Linked DNA regions of Homo sapiens: region 2 is linked to region 1. The links come from fine-mapping of genetic effects on gene expression. Tissue or cell type: thyroid. Region 1 holds a variant in brackets; the other region holds the start of a gene. All regions are shown on one strand. Distances are from middle to middle.

The links. PIP is the estimated chance that this variant, and not a neighbour inherited with it, causes the effect.
Region 2: it holds the start of PTCHD1, and the variant in region 1 is fine-mapped to the expression of PTCHD1 in thyroid (GTEx, PIP above 0.99).

Annotation. Positions count from the first base shown.
Region 1 is chrX:23,690,825-23,693,584 of GRCh38, reverse strand. No RefSeq gene overlaps it. Among named protein-coding and RNA genes, the nearest start is that of PRDX4, 25 kb to the right of the region's middle. The variant G/AACAG (reference allele first, on the strand shown) is at 1,163.
Region 2 is chrX:23,333,300-23,335,799 of GRCh38, reverse strand. PTCHD1 (patched domain containing 1) reads right to left here and starts at 951. Exons shown (of 3, transcript NM_173495.3): 1 at 574-951. The coding sequence starts at 924.

The DNA of each region.
Region 1 (2,760 bases):
CTTCTTGAGGGAAGGAATTGTATCAGATCTTTTTATTCCTATTGTCTAGCAAAGTCCCTTGCACATATTTAGGTAATAAATGTTTTTTGTGTGAACAAATATACGATTTAGGTGAATTTGGGTGTTCGAGTTGGCTTTTGAATTTGTTAATTAAAAAAAATTGTAAGTTTAAGACTCAGGAAGGAGGCTCTTTTAAAATATATTTTTGGGCTGGGCACGGTGGCTCATGCCTGTAATCCCAGCACTTTGGGAGGCTGAGGCGGGCCATTCACTTGAGGTCAGCCTGGCCAACATGGTGAAACCCTGCCTCTACTAAACATACAAAAATTAGCCAGACATGGTAGTGCTTGCCTGTAATCCCAGCTACTTGGGAGGCTGAGGCAGAATTACTTGAACCTGGGAAGCAGAGGCTGCAGTGAGCCGAGATTGTGCTGCTGCACTCCAGCCCCTCTCAAAATAAATAAATAAAATATATTTTTAGCATTTTACATAAATGTACAATATTATGCTAAAATTGTTATTTAGTAATAGGATTGGTAAAAATTACTTTGCTATATGAAACTAAATACATAGTAACTATGATAAACATTTTCTTTTCTGTTGAAAAGCTAGGTAAAAAATATGAGTTTATAGAAGCATCTGTGTGTGTATATATACATATGTATATCTATGTGATATCATTATATATATGTGATATCATTATATATATATAGCTTTTTGTCCATGGTTCCTGGCTCATAACTCCCATAGCCCTTATTATTTCCCAAGTGATTAAGCAATAAGCATATCTTTTGTTAAAGTGTTCGTCCTTTAGTCCTTGGTTCCTGAAGCAGCTTTGGAAGTGCTTCAGAGCGATCAAAGGAAAAGACCATCTTTGGTTTTAATGTGCGGGTGCTGTAGGCCTCAGAAGCAGGGCTCAGAAAACAGCCTCTCCCGCTGACCTTCTCATACTCTCCTTTTTCACCTGCTCCTTTGTCTCTCCAAGGCAGGCCATAGAAACTGAAAATATAATCTGCCCCCACCTTTGTATTTGGAGCCGGTCATAAAGAAATTCTCTGACCTACCTTGTCTGATTGTAGGTCATAAGATCCTCATTTTAGAAAGGGTCCTGCCCTCAACCCAGGAGGAAGGAGTGCCGTGCAGAGAGGCCAACAGGAATCTG[G/AACAG]ACAGGCCTTGCTAGGATTCCCCACTCCGTCTATTAGCATTAGATCATGCCCTTTTTGCCCAATCACGTTTTGCACTTGATCTTAGCCAAAAGGCCGAGAAGCGATCCAATCACATTTTGACACGGTTGTCCATGCTTCAGTCATGCCTATCCAATGAAGTCTCCATAAAAGGCCCAAGAGGACCAGGTACGCAGAACTTCTGGACAGCTGAGCTGGTGAAGGCTTGCAGGAAGGTGAACAAGAATTCACCCATGTGTTGGGATGATGGTGCACCCCAACTCCACGGGAATAGAAGCTCCCGTGCTCAGGACCCTTCCAGACCTCGCCCTATGTGCCTCTTCATCTGGGTGTTTATTCGTATCCTTCAAAATATCCTTCATAAGAAACTGGTAAGTGTAAGTGGGCGTTTCCCGGAGTTTTGCAAGCTGCTCTAACAATTGAGCCTAAAGAGGGGGTCATGGGAACCCCAACTTGAAGTCAGTCAGTCAGAAGTTCCAGAGGCCTGTACTTGGGAGCTGGTGTCTGAAGTGGGGGCAGTCCTGTGGGTCTGAGCCCTCAACCTGTGGTATCTGATGCTATATCCAGGTGGACAGCATCAGAATTGAATTGGATCAGAAGATTCCTGGCTGGTGTCCACTGCAGAATTGCTTGCCTGTTGGTGGGGAAAATCCCTACACCCTACACATTTGGTCACAGAAGTCTTCTGTATTGATTGTTGTCATGTGAGAACAGAGGAAAAACAGTTTTTCTTTTTCTTTTCTTTTCTTTTTTTCTTTTTTTTTGAGACAGGGTCTTGCTCTCTTGCCCAGGCTGGAGTGCAGTGGTGTGATCACAGCTCACTGAGGGCTTGACCTTTTGGGCTTAAATGATCCTCCTGCCTTAGGCTCAGGAACAGCTGGGACTACAAGTACAAGACACCACGCCTGGATAATTTTTATACTTTTTGTAGAGATGAGGTCTCACCATATCGTCCAGGCGGGTCTCAAATTCCTGGGCTCAAGTGACCTTCCTGCCTCGGCCTCCCAAAGTGCTGGGATTATAGGCATGAGCCACTGCACCCAGCTGTAAAAGTTTTTTGACCCTATATATATGTATGAATATATATAGACACACAAATACATAGATATGTGTATATATATTCCCCTCCACTGCAGACACTTTTATGAAACTTTTTTTTTTGAGAGAGAGTCTTGTTCTGTCACCAAGGTTGGAGTGCAGTGACACGACCTTGGCTCACTGCAACCTCCGCCTCCTGGGTTTAAGCGAGCACGTCCAGCTAATTTTTGTATTTTTAGTAGAGACGAGGTTTCACCATGTTGGCCAGGCTGGTCTTGAGCTCCTGACCTCAAGTGATTCGCCCGCCTCGGCCTCCCAAAGTGCTAGGATTACAGGTGTGAACCACTACGCCCGGTCTATGAAATTATTTACCTGAAACACATATTTTGTTACATCTTATATATTAATAACCTTGTATTCAAAGATTTCTCAGTGACATAGTGTTGTCACAAAGTTCATAGGGGGGTTAGGATACCAAAATATCATTAAATAATAAAATAGTAGTTAATGTGTTTGAGAACAAAATATACAACCTGGAAAC
Region 2 (2,500 bases), 360 kb after region 1:
CACACTTCTTTCTGGGTGGGTGGGAGGCATCTTCATCACCATCCCGCCTCACATTCTTTTGTCCTTTCCCAACATCCCACACCAACAACCGTTCCCCAAACACTCCGGGGGGCCAGAAAAAGGGAGAAACAAAACTGAGGACAGGGAGGGGTATCTCGGAATCCCCTCCAAGCATAGTATTTTGTTCTCAAGTAGTAGGACTTTCCAGAATGTCTTCTCTCGTTCTGCTCCTTGCTGGCCCAGTTACCCCAAAGCCTCCCCACCCCCAAGCCCACTGCGACCAAAACAAGCGCACCGACCACAGCACTGTGGCCGCCGCCGCCCCAACTGTTGCAGCAGCTGCGGGGTGGCGGTAGAGGCGACGCGGGCAGGGCCGGACCCGGACCCCGACGCTCCTTGTCCAGGAGGCTGGGAGGCTCCAGTCGGCCGCCCTGGGGCGCGCGGTGCAGGAGAGTCCCTGCGGCAGCTGCCTGGGCTAGGAGAGGTGGCGCTCTCAGCCGGGACCCCAGCGCAGAGCCAGCCCGACCGCGGCCGCGGCGCTGGCGGAGTCTGCCCGCACCCGTCCCCTCTCACCTTTAAGATCAGGTCGGTGTGATGCTGGTCCAGCATGTTGGCTTTCTGGAAGGAGGTGACGATGACCCGGCCGTAGCGCCCGGGGGTCTGCAGGTCCGAGTAGAGACGGTGCTTGGAGCGGTTGACCGGGAAGAGGCTGTTAACGAGGTTGCGCTCGATCTTGGCCAGGCTGTGCTGGGGCGCCAGCAGGTGCTCCACGCTCTCCTCGACCTGGTAGCGGCTGAAGCTGGCGCCGAGCAGGATGGAGATGAGCACCGGCGCCGAGGCGAAGAAGACAGGGTGACTGGCAATGAAGTGGCCGAGCCGGGAGAAACACGTCCTCAAGCCCCTGTGCAGAACCTGCCGCAGCATCCTAGAGCAGAGCGGGCGCGGGAGGAGGGCGAGGCGCACGCTCGGCGCGGGTTCGGGCGGCGGCGGCGGCGGCGGCGGCGGCGGCGGCAGCGGCGCCCGCGGCGGCGGCGACGGCGGCGGCGGCGAGACCCTGAGCTCTCCCGGAGCCGCGGCACCACCATCGGGGAGTCCCGCGCCGCGCCTCGGGAGGGTCCCCTCGAGCCGGAGACACGCCCTCCTGCCCGCGGCCGCGCCCTCCCGGAGAGCCCCCCAGCTTGGCGGCCTCTGCGCCGCCCCCACTCCGCCCTACCGCGTGCGCCCTCCCCACCCCCCGCGGCCTCCCCGCCAGGGGGGCTCCGCGCCGCGCGGCCGCGTCCCCTCTCAGCGCGGGCGGGGCCCGGGGCAGCCCCCGCGGCTCGTCATGACCCCACTCACCCGACCCCCAAGGCCAACGACGGGGTGGCGCGGGGAGCGGCGACGGCGCTATCGCCAGGAGACTCTGCGCGCCCGCCCAGGAACACGAGGACGGAGAATTCCAGGCTACACCCAGTCCCCTCCCCTCCCTTCGCTCCCCTCCCCCGGTCCGGCCCGCCAAGCTCGCTCTCCCCTTCTCTGCCCTCCTCCGGGAAGACCCAGAGATAAATAAAGAAATGGCCCCGATTTTCCAAACAAAAAGTAAAGAGTTCTCAGGAGTGGGGGGAGGGGGCGGGTGTCGGGCGGACCCGCTCAGAGCCGAGTCTCTCCAGAGGCTTAAAGGAGCAGGCTGAAGACTGCGTGCGTCCCGGCTCTCGCCAGGCTCAGGTGGTGGCGCGCACTGGCTGGTGCCGAGAGGGGGTGGGGAGCGAAGACGCTCGAACGTGGAAATCACGCCTCCTTCCAAATAAGAACCGTTTAAAATACCCCCAACACTGCAGCTTCGGCGGGACCACGGGGTCCGGGTGTGTGTCTGGAGCACGTCCACTCAAAAGGTATCCGTGGAGAATCTTTCTCTGTGGCTCTAATTTAGGGTCGCTCCAGAGTGGATTGGGGCTGGCCAGCTCTGTTGCACACCCCCCAACCTCCCACCCAGTCCTTTAGTAATAAAAGTGCTGATAATGACGGTCAGTCGATGGAACTGTCCGTCGCCTGGGCTCCCGGGCTCCCGAGCTCCGGGGCTCCCCGGCTCCCGGTTCTTCGCCCTGCCTTCTCTTCCTCCTCCTCTCTCTGTCGTCACCAGCAGGTCTGGGGGACCTGGTGCGGCGTGGCTGGCGCGGGCGCCCCTGCGGGCGTAGAGTGTTTGAGAAAGGCTGGCCAGGGAGTCAGTAGCATTAACCCCCTTCTCTGCCTCACTCCGCCCTCTCCTCCCCTACATGCGAAGGTGTGAGAGTGGAGGGAACCTTATCTCAGAGCAGGAGAGATACAGGTCTCCGAGCGTGTTGAGCCGCAGGGGGCGCGGGGGAGCCCGCGGGGCGCCGACGGCTTGGCAAAGTTGGGCGTGTGCGTGTGCGCGCCAGCCGTGAGCTAGCAGGCAGTCACCGTGGTTCCCCTCGCACTCCCCCTCCGGAGAATTCCCCGAGAAGGCGGGCGCCGGCTTCGGCCCCGGGATAGACCTGCGGCG